Linked DNA regions of Homo sapiens. The protein of the gene in region 1 purifies or fractionates together with the protein of each later gene. This does not show direct contact. Each region holds a gene or a part of one and is shown on either strand. Other genes may lie near its edges. The genes, in order: IFT52, TTC21A and IFT172.

What was found.
Region 2: the proteins of IFT52 (region 1) and TTC21A purify together in Homo sapiens (co-immunoprecipitation; one study listed by IntAct). This does not show direct contact.
Region 3: the proteins of IFT52 (region 1) and IFT172 purify together in Homo sapiens (affinity purification with mass spectrometry; one large-scale study listed by BioGRID and IntAct). This does not show direct contact.

The regions. Positions count from the first base shown.
Region 1 is NC_000020.11:43,635,937-43,639,585, reverse strand, and holds part of IFT52 (intraflagellar transport protein 52 homolog), read right to left. Parts: coding exon 3,573-3,649; intron 2,442-3,572; coding exon 2,333-2,441; intron 1-2,332. UniProt on the Homo sapiens protein: Involved in ciliogenesis as part of a complex involved in intraflagellar transport (IFT), the bi-directional movement of particles required for the assembly, maintenance and functioning of primary cilia. Required for the anterograde transport of IFT88.
Region 2 is NC_000003.12:39,135,098-39,138,746, forward strand, and holds part of TTC21A (tetratricopeptide repeat protein 21A), read left to right. Parts: coding exon 1-77; intron 78-1,232; coding exon of another isoform or gene 1,233-1,259; coding exon 1,260-1,410; intron 1,411-1,801; coding exon 1,802-1,963; intron 1,964-2,082; coding exon of another isoform or gene 2,083-2,097; coding exon 2,098-2,290; intron 2,291-2,388; coding exon 2,389-2,613; intron 2,614-3,108; exon of another isoform or gene 3,109-3,169; coding exon 3,170-3,290; intron 3,291-3,458; coding exon 3,459-3,526; coding exon of another isoform or gene 3,527-3,583; exon of another isoform or gene 3,584-3,613; coding exon 3,614-3,649. UniProt on the Homo sapiens protein: Intraflagellar transport (IFT)-associated protein required for spermatogenesis. Required for sperm flagellar formation and intraflagellar transport.
Region 3 is NC_000002.12:27,451,688-27,455,336, reverse strand, and holds part of IFT172 (intraflagellar transport protein 172 homolog), read left to right. Parts: intron 1-676; coding exon 677-770; intron 771-918; coding exon 919-983; intron 984-1,174; coding exon 1,175-1,355; intron 1,356-1,597; coding exon 1,598-1,707; intron 1,708-1,823; coding exon 1,824-1,953; intron 1,954-2,066; coding exon of another isoform or gene 2,067-2,099; exon of another isoform or gene 2,100-2,200; intron 2,201-3,649. UniProt on the Homo sapiens protein: Required for the maintenance and formation of cilia. Plays an indirect role in hedgehog (Hh) signaling, cilia being required for all activity of the hedgehog pathway.

The DNA.
Region 1 (3,649 bases):
CGATTCTCCTGCCTCAGCCTCCCCAGTAGCTGGGATTACAGGCATGCGCCACCACACCCAGCTAATTTTGTATTTTTAGTAGAGAAGGGGTTTCTCCATGTTGGTCAGGCTGGTCTTGAACTCCCAACCTCAGGTGATCTGCCCACCTTGGCCTCCCAATGTGCCGGGATTACAGGCGTGAGCCACTGCACCCAGCCTTTTTTTTTGTTTTTTTGAGACAAGGTCTCATTATGTTGTCCAAGCTGGTCTTGAAATCCCAGCCTCAACTGATCCTCCTGCCTTGGCTTTTTGAAGTGTTCAGATTATAGGCATGATCCACCGTGCTCAGGCAATTTTTTTTTTTTTTTTTGTAGAGATGGGGTCTATGTGACCCAGGCTTATTTCATACTCTTTTTAACCAATCCCCCTAATGATGGATGGACCATTAGACTGTTTCCAATTTTTTGAATGCTATAATTAATATCTATATCTTTTTTGTCTTGCATTTCTACAAGGATTTCCATAGGACAGTTGCTAGAAACAGAAATGCCAAGTCAAAGCTGCTTCTTCACCGTTCTGTGATTCCTCCTGGACTCATCACTATGTCCTGCTCATTTTTGACTGCCCAGGACCCACAGCAATGCCTGCCACAGAAGAGAGATGCAGTAAAGGTCTTCGTTTACACTGAACTGTTTCCATTTTGCTTACTTCTTTCTGGGCTTTGGGCACATACAGATGTTACTGACATAGCTGGTATCCTCTTGTACATGCAGTTTTATATCTTGCTTTCTTCATTCAGGATTCTCTCTTAAATTCTGTCTGTGTCATATGTGTCATTCCCTAGCCTTTGTGAACCTCTTTTATAATGACTACATATTCTCCTACCAAATGAATGTGACGCATTTTAAGACCATTACTCTGCTAGTGGACATTAAAGCTATTCCCAAATTTATAGTTTTTTTCTATTTTTAAAAATTGTTATTTTTTTAAAATATATTTTTAGAGACAGGGTCTTGCTATGTTGCCCAGACTGGTCTTAAATTCCTAAGTTCAAGCGATCCTCCTACCTCAGCCTCCCGAGTTTATTGTATTTTAAAAATAAATAGTGTAGAAGTTGGCCGGACGTGGTGGCTCATGCCTGTAATCCCAGCACTTTGGGAGGCTGAGGCGGGTGGATCACCTGAGGTCTGGAGTTTTAGACCAGCTTGGCCAACATGGTAAAACCCCATCTCTACTAAAAACACAAAAATTAGCCATGCGTGGCGGTGGGCAACTGTAATCCCAGCTACTTGGGAGGCTGAGGCAGGAGAATCGCTTGAACTCAGGAGGCGGAGGTTACCTCGAGCTGAGATAGCACTATTGCACCCAAGGCTGGGCGACAAGAGTGAAACTTTGTCTCAAAAAAAAAAAAAATATAATCTCCTTAGATTAGAGTTCCAGGAGTGGGGTCACTGCCTCAAAGTGGATGGTTAATTTTATGCCTCTGAGCATATATGTGCAGACCCATTTGCTGTGTTGGAGGCAATTCATGTCAGGAGCAGCCCCAGACCAAAAGTCAGGAGGACCACTCACCGTGGAGCTGTGTGGCCTGGGGCCTCATTTCTTCATCCACATGTCAAGGTGGGCACACTTGGCTCTCTCTCAGATCCTGTCCAATTTGAAGTCTCTATCATTCTTTGGGCCTTACTCAATTTCCTTATTTAGCTGCTCCTATGACCACTGACTGAGATTTGCTAAGTGGCAGCCAGGGTCAAGATTAATTCTATGGTCTCTCAATAGGTCAGAACTAAGGACTCACAGGGATCAAAGCTGAGACCTTTGGCTTTCTGCTTGGCACTATGTTCTAATTCACTGAACTAAATAGCCTCGAGAAGAACAACCAACATTATTTACATGACATAAATAAGAATGGTAAGTTTATACTCCTATTCATATTTTGTTTTCCCTAAACAAACTCTAAGCAGTCTCTCATAGCAATTCTCAGAAATTCATGATTAAATAAAACTCATAAGAGAAAACAAAGTTTAAAAGTTGGCCAAACTTAGGCCAGGCATGGTGGCTCACGCCTGTAATCCCAGCACTCTGGGAGGCCGAGGCGGGCTGATCGCCTGAGGTCAGGAGTTTGAGACCAGCCTGACCAATATGATGAAACCCCGTCTCTACTAAAAATACAAAAATTAGCTGGGCGTGGTGGCGCATGCCTGTAATCCCAGCTACTCGGGAGGCTGAGACAGGAGAATCGCTTGAACCTGGGAGACAGAGGTTGCAGTGAGCCGAGATCGCACCATTGCACTCCAGCCTGGGCAACAAGAGTGAAACTCTGTCTCAAAAAAAAAAAGTTCGCCAAACTTACACTTATTGGTAATCTGAGCCAGCCGTGCCTTCTCAGAGGAGAACGTTTCATCTAAATCAAATAGCTCCAGAGGAGGAGGTGGTAACTCCCGGAAACTGGGAGGAAAAACCTAAAAGGAAATAAAGTCATTATTTAGAAATGAGGGAGGATAAGGTAAAGGAAATAAAGTCTCTCAAGAAAGAGCTTGTCCAAAATCATAACTAACAGTGATAAGACACAAGGAGAATAAGGAAGTTCACATCCTTAATTCCTCAGTTGGGAACCACACCACATGGAAACCCCTACAGAACAGTAACTCGGCTCTTCCCTGAGGATGAAATACCCAAACTCCCATCACCTCGTCTACCCTCACCCATTAGACCCATACCAAGAAAGATTATTAGCCCACTGTAAACAACCAAGTAGAACCAGCTCTAATTACCACTAAACTGACCAAGCTGACATACCAATGCTAATTAACTCAGAACGATGACACAAAGCTTGGGGCTTAGGTTTGTGTTGAACATTTGATTGTACAACTTGTTTCTCATTTAATCATAAGTTTTTAGGGATGGAAGTTATTTGGAGAACCAGATGCAGATTAGTGTAGAAAGTATTGAACCTGGAGTCACATTTTGTAGGTATGAACCAATGGTATGCGGGTAAATGTTTAACTACTTTCAAAACAAAACAAAACTGAAGGCCTGTTTTGTAGCATTTACCATTTTCTGTAATGTAAATCCTCTCACCATGGCCAATTTCAAGCTACCAAGCAAGATCAAGCTAACTGGCTCATAACATTTCAGAATGTGGTGAGACAAGGTAATTTTAAAGGCAAGTTGAATGTTGGACTGAAATGTTGAAAAATAACCTATTTACACACATGACCATAACTATCCCCTGGGCTGTGAGAATTATGTTATGAATCAGGCCCTGACACCTGGAATGGCAGTACAAAGTTTTCTTCCTTTTTATCCAAGAAATCTCATATATGCCCTCCAACCCCACAAGATGAGAATAGGAAATGTTTAATAGCCAGAAGGCTCCACATCCTTGATTCCTCAATTTGGAAGCATACCACATGGAAGTCTCTATAGAACATTAACAAATTTGGTGTCCATGCATGTTTAGAGACAGAGCACTATGACTCCACAAGGAGTGCCACAAATGGCACATGGAAGGGACCACAGCGAATGCCTGCTGACAAGATAAGGGCAACAGTGGGGCTCTGCAGTGGGATCTCCCAAGCACACCTACTCACCGCAGGCTGAAGGGTTGGCAGCGGCGTCTCAAACTGAGGCTGGATGAGCTGGAGTGGTTCATGTTTCACATTTAGCT
Region 2 (3,649 bases), on another chromosome or scaffold:
GGCTGACCTGATGTTTAGAAAACAGAAACATGAAGCGGCCATCAATCTTTACCACCAAGTCTTGGAGAAAGCGCCAGGTAATTCTGCCCATGGAGACTGCCTGTACCAGTTCCCACTGAGCAAGGGCCGCTCTCCCAGAGAAGGGTGGGACCTCTCCCTCCTTCCTGACTGGGCAGAGGAAGCCCCTTCCTCCCTGATTGTTCCAGAGAAGCAGGAAACTGATAAAGACCCAGTGGAACGTGCCGGCCCTTCCCGAGTCCAAGGGGCCAGTTCCTGGTCTCAAGGACTTGGCACTGGACCCAGGACAGCATGTCTGTCCCCAAATCACAGCCAATGGGGCTTGACACAGTCCCCTTTTGAGGTCACAGCCACTTGTAGGGACTAGAAATTCTCCCCCGTTGTATAGCTTCATTCCCATTCACTGCAGCGTAAAACCACCCCTTATTGCTGGGGAAAGGGGCCAGACCTGAGGCTCAGGTTGGAGCCCTGGCAGGCCCATGGCAGTGTGCCCATAGGCCCAGGAGGTCACCACGGTTAGGAGTATGGGTGCTGGGGCCAGGCTGCCTGGGTCTGAGTCCTGGTCTACCACTTACTGGTTGTGCAACTTTCAGCAAATTATTTCTCCATGTCTCAGTGTCCTCATCTGTAAAACAGACACAATAAGAGTACCTACCTAGGCCGGGCATGGTGGCTCACACCTGTAATCCTAGCACTTTGGGAACCCGAGGCGGGCAGATCACAAGGTCAGGGGATCGAAACCATCCTGGCTACACGGTGAAACCCTGTCTCTACTAAAAATACAAAAAAATTGGCCGGGCGTGGTGGCGGGTGCCTGTAGTCCCAGCTACTCGGGGGTGGGCTGAGGCAGGAAAATGGCATGAACCCAGGAGGCAGAGCTTGCAGTGAGCCGAGATCACGCCACTGCACTCCAGCCTGGGTGACAGGGCGAGACTCCGTCTCAAAAAAAAAAAAAAAGATTAGGTACCTACCTAATCTTGCAGTTAATATATAGGTAAAGCACTTAATACCAGGTACAATATAAGTGCTATATAAGTGTTAGCTGCTATTCTTTACTATTTTTAAGCATTAGTATTATTCTTTACTCAACCCTGGAGACCAGTGGAGACTCTGGAGCTGTTGGAATGTCCCTGCTCAGCCCAGATGGGCAGTATCTCTTGGCTTCTCCTAGGGCCCCAGCACCCTCATCTGATAACAGCTACTGGGCATTTCAGCCTGGAGATTTCTGTCTCTTATTTTAGACAATTTTTTGGTATTGCATAAATTAATCGATCTGCTAAGAAGAAGTGGAAAACTTGAAGACATTCCTGCCTTCTTTGAATTGGCCAAGAAGGTGTCTAGCCGGGTGCCTTTGGAACCAGGGTTCAATTACTGCAGAGGTATCTACTGCTGGTGAGTTGGGTGTGGTGTGTTGAGGGGCAGCTGTGTGCAGGAAGCCCTACTGGCAGATAGGCTAGGCCCTTGCTCTGCACAAAAGGAGCAGAAATTCTGCCTCCAGGACACCCGGACCCAGCAAGTGAGGGCCCATGGGGGCAGGGGTGGAACCCTGTGGAAGTCAGGGAGAGCCTGCAGCCTCTGGATGGAGGCCAGGTGAGGGCCACTTGGGCAGGCCACCAGCCTGCATCCAACACACAGGTCCGACGCCCGCATCTCCTCCAGGGGAGCTGGGAAACCAGAGATCCAGCCTCTGCTTTGTGCAGACTCACAAAGTGGTCCTTGTATATCCCTGCCCTGTCTGGGCCTCAGTTTCCCTCACTGATTCTTGGTGTTTTCTCCACCACAGGCACATAGGGCAGCCCAACGAAGCCTTAAAGTTCCTGAACAAGGCACGCAAGGACAGCACTTGGGGCCAGAGCGCCATCTACCACATGGTGCAGATCTGTCTGAATCCAGACAACGAGGTTGTGGGCGGAGAGGCTTTTGAGAACCAGGGAGCTGAGAGCAAGTAAGGGCCCATGGAGGCAGGGGCGGAACCCTGGGGAAGTTACAGAAAGCCTGCAACCTCTGGGTTGAAGCCAGGTGAGGGCCACACGGGCAGGCCACCGGCCTGTGTCTGATACCCAGGTCTAACACCTGCAGCTACATGGAGAAGAAGGAGTTGGAGCAGCAGGGTGTGAGCACCGCCGAGAAACTGCTGCGTGAGTTTTACCCACATTCAGACTCCAGCCAGACCCAGCTGCGGCTGCTGCAGGGCCTCTGCCGGCTGGCCACCAGGGAGAAGGCTAACATGGAGGCTGCGCTGGGCAGCTTCATCCAGATAGCGCAGGCTGAGGTGTGGCTGGTGGGGACTGGCGGGCATGGGCAGGTGGCAGGGCCGAGAAGACCAGGCGGCCAACACGTGCTGACGTCCACTTCCTACCTGGTGTGTAGAAGGACAGCGTCCCTGCCCTGCTGGCCTTGGCACAAGCCTACGTGTTCCTGAAGCAGATCCCCAAGGCGCGTATGCAGTTGAAGCGCCTGGCCAAGACCCCCTGGGTGCTGAGTGAGGCTGAGGACCTGGAGAAGAGCTGGCTCCTGCTGGCTGACATTTACTGCCAGGGCAGCAAGTTCGACCTCGCCTTAGAACTGCTGCGGCGCTGTGTGCAATACAACAAGGCAAGGAGCCACACACACACTAGGGCTGCGGGATGGCGGAAAGGATTCTAGGCATTCCAGGAAGGTGAAGCAGGCTTTGCAGGTAGAGGCCATATGGAATAAGAACTAGTCGGGAAGAGGCAGGCTGAGAGGGGCACATGGGCGACAGACCAGAATAGGAATGAGGATCAAGGGCGATGGACCAGGTGAGAGGAGGTGCACAGGGGTCGTGTTATGTCCAGAGGAGGGAACACTAAAGGACAGAAAGAGATGGGAAAGCTTCATGGGTTCCAAGCTGGAGGGACTTTTGCAGGTCAGAGCAGGCCAGGAATGGGAGTGGCGGAACAGGAGGGCTACAGGGAAAGGGGTTACGCCAGTGTCTGGGGTAGCTGAGAGGAGGGCACACAGTTGGCTTCTTGCAAAGGTTGGGGTACCCCTGGGGTCCCTTGGCAGTTTGGTTTATGGCAGCTCACTTCTGTCCCTTGCCTGCTTCTGGTTCTGGTCCCAGTCCCACCCTGGCCCAGGGAACCAGTTGGGGCTTCCGCTCTGCAGAGGCTCTAACTGGCTTTCCCTGCAGTCCTGCTACAAGGCCTATGAGTACATGGGCTTCATCATGGAGAAGGAGCAGTCCTACAAGGATGCAGTCACCAACTACAAACTGGCCTGGAAGTACAGTCATCACGCCAACCCTGCCATTGGTAAGGCAACCAGCCAGGGTGCACGTGAATGGACGTGGGAGGGAGGTGGGCAGGAGGGCCCCCACCATGACCCCAGAACTCAAGGCCTGTACCCTGGCTGTTATGAGAACCAGAGGGGTTCTCAGGTCACCAGGGTGCCACCATCTTTGCTCTCCATGTCCCCGGTAGGCTTCAAACTTGCTTTCAACTACCTGAAGGACAAGAAATTTGTGGAGGCCATTGAAATCTGCAACGATGTAAGCCAGCAGCCTTGGTGGGGAGGGCCTGGTGTAGTGGTGGGGAAACCTGCATGATACTGCACACCCATTCTCTCTCTGTTCCAGGTCCTCAGGGAGCACCCCGACTACCCCAAGATCAGG
Region 3 (3,649 bases), on another chromosome or scaffold:
CAATTTTCCTAGCTGTGATCATCAATTATTTCAAAATCGCCAATTTACCATACTTCAGCATCACAATTAGAAACCAGACGATGACTTTGGAGCACAGCCTAATAAGGACCTGCCGTTTGCCTCTCTTTCTGGCATTGTTGATGCTCTTGAGCACATCAGCCAGGACATTCATGCGCACTATTGCGGCGGTGCAGAAAGATAGCCAAAAGAGCAAAGTGTTCTCAAGCTACTGTTATCAGTGCCAATCATGGAGTCCGATGCTGAGGGTGGTCTTGCTCATTTTTTGGAGAGACTCTGTTTCTGCTAATGTAGCTGGGGCTCAGGAAGAGATGGAGAGCACCAGGAGCCCTCCTAGCCCTGTCAGTGTAGGGCTGCGAGGCTCACTCCTCCCTTCCCCTTCGCAGGCCCAAACTAATTCCTCAGGAGCAGCTGGCCTCAGGGAAGGCATAGGCTTTTCCAGACGTCTCTTGATCCACGCTGACAGTGACATGGTCTTCACAGGGCTGCCTGCCCGTCTTCCTTTTTATCTCTCCACGCTTTTCTGTCACTTCATATTTGTTATCCTTAAATCTGTCACTTTTTCTCCCCTCAACTCTGTCCTTTCTCTGTTTTGTCTTGTTCCTTTTATGAAGGGAAGCATGAAGCAAGAAAACTTTATCTGCACTTTCTGTTTCAGCTCCTTTGAATTTGCGTTTGAACTCTCTCGGCTGGCCCTCAAGCACAAAACCCCCGAGGTTCATCTCAAATATGCTATGTTCCTGGAGGATGAGGTATGGGTGTGATTTGGACCCCGACCGCAGAGCCCTCTTATTCCATCCCCTAGTGCACTGCTGCTGGGTGTGCAGACCCCCAGTCTCATGCCTGCCTGTGATGCCAGTCTCCTTCTCATCATGCACGGCTGCCTTTCTCTCCCTGTAGGGTAAATTCGAAGAGGCTGAAGCTGAATTCATCAGAGCTGGTAAACCCAAGGAGGCAGTCCTCATGTGAGTTACCCCATACATTCCTTAATACTGTTTCCCCAGTCACCGTCCCAGGATCTTTCATGATTATCTTGACCTTCATTCAAACCTAGAACAAATCAGTGTTACACCCCTCAGTGACATGGCTGTTTGTCTCCCACTATTGGGGCCTCAGTCCTATACTCAGTCTCTCCTCTGTCCCCACCTGGAGGCAGGTTTGTCCATAACCAGGATTGGGAGGCAGCTCAGCGTGTGGCTGAGGCTCACGACCCTGACAGTGTCGCCGAGGTGCTTGTGGGACAGGCCCGGGGGGCCTTGGAGGAGAAGGACTTTCAGAAAGCAGAAGGGCTGCTGCTCCGGGCCCAGAGACCAGGCCTGGCCCTCAATTATTATAAGGTGGGGCACTGGATGCAGGGCCATGAGGGGAGGGGGAGAGTTTGTAAGAGCCCACAGAGAGCCACACTGACCCCTGGTATGAAGAAAGATCAGGGAGGTTAGTATTGGGGAGTGGGGAAGACAGGAAAGAGGAGGAGAAGAGAGGTCCAAGGACCCAGGAGTCTGTGGGCCAGAGTACCTGTGTGGCAGTGGGAAGCTGTCAGGCCTGCCTCTGCCCTCTTGATACCTGGAAATCTGAGCAGGAGGCTGGATTATGGAGTGACGCTCTGCGCATCTGCAAGGACTATGTGCCCAGCCAGCTGGAGGCTCTGCAGGAAGAATATGAGCGGGAAGCTACTAAGAAGGGGGCCAGGTATGAGGCCAGAGGTCCAGGCAGCATTGGCAGGGCTGGGAGGGTCATGAGGCATACACAGGATAGAGCATGCTGCCCCCCTACCATGCCAAGTCCCAGCGCTCTCATCTCCACAGGGGTGTGGAGGGATTTGTGGAACAAGCTCGACACTGGGAGCAGGCTGGAGAGTACAGCCGTGCCGTGGACTGCTACCTCAAAGTGCGAGACTCTGGAAACAGCGGCCTGGCGGAGAAGTGCTGGATGAAGGTGAGGACAGCAGGCCCTTTCTGGCCCTCCTTCTCCCTAGGCCTCTATTCACACTTGGCTCTGCTTCTCACATCTTCAGCTCTTTCCTCTTGTGTCTTTTTCTTTTCAATCAGGTAGCAGGAATCTATGGAGTGCCTGCTGGATGATAGAGCCAGAACCTCTGAAGGCTATAAAAGTGGATATAAGACAGAGCCCTGACAGCCAAAAGTTAGGGGAATTAGACCAATAAATGGCTCAATTACTATCATATCTGAGTAAAGACTAAAGTGCATGATTTAAAGTAGAGTTCAGAGAACAGTGAGATCTCTGTGGGCTAGAGGGGTCAGGAAGGCTCTGTGAAGAAGGAGGGAAGACTTGGACAGGAGCTGGAAGGGCAACTCCAGGCACAGGAACTGGCCAGACAGGGAACATGAAAAAAGCATGGGCTCCACCTCCCCCACCCAACATTTCCTGAAAAGAAGCTTCCAGCAAATTAAGCCAGGCCAGTATGTGTCACAAATAATAAGACATACTGTATTGGAGAAACCAACAGGATATATACAGTCATATGCCATATAACAACGTTTTGGTCAACAGTAGACCACATGGGTGGGCATGGTGGCTCACGCCTATAATTCTAGCACTTTGGGAAGCTGAGGTGGGTGGATCCCTTGAGGTGATCCCACGCCTGGCCTTAAATAGGTTTCAATACACAAATGCTTACCATTGTGTTATGGTTGCCTATAGGTAGTCAGTACAGAAATGTGCTGTACAGGTTTGTGGCCTAGGAGCAATAAGCTCTACGCAACCTCTACCTAGGTGTATAGTAGACTATACCATCTAGGTTTGTGCTATGATGCTTACATAATGATGAAATCCCCTAAGGACACATTTCTCAGAACATACTGATCATTAGACAATGCATGACTGTAGGTATATGTGTGTACATGTATATAAAGAGATTTATTAAAAGGAATTGGCTCATGCAGTTATGGAGATAGACAAGGCCCAAGATCTGCAGGTGAGCTGGCAAACTGAAAACCCAGGAGAACTGATGGTGTAGTTCTTGTTTGAAGGCCAGCAAGCTTGAGACCCAAGAAGAGCTGATGTTTCAGTTCAAATCTGAAGGCAGGAAAAAGCCAGTGTCCCAGTTTAAAGGCAGTCAAACAGGAAGAATTCTCTCTAACTTGGGAAGGAGCCAGCCTTTATGTTCTGTTCATGCCTTGAAATGATTGGATGAGGTCTATCCACAGTAGAGAGGGCAATTTGCTTTACTCAGTCTACCAATTTAAATGTTAACCTCATCCAAAAACACTTATAGAAACACCCAGAATAATGTTTGACCAAATACCCGGATACCCTGTAGCCCAAATTGATACATAAAGTTAACAATAACATATATATATATATATATACACACACACATACATATATATAATTATATTTTAATATATTTAAAATTGGGATGCAGGTATAGTTTAAATGACGCACCTTAGATACAGTGAAATGTGAGTGGGGGTCATGAGGGGGGTGAGATTGGCCCTCTAAATGACATATTCGTATGGTGATGCCCCTGCAAAATTTCCCTTAGGTTTTGAGGTTTTTTTGTTTGTTTGTTTATTTTGTTTGTTTGTTTTTTGAGACGGAGTCTTGCTCTGTCGCCCAGGCTGGAGTGCAGTGGTGCAATCTCGGCTCACTGCAAGCTCCGCCTCCTGGG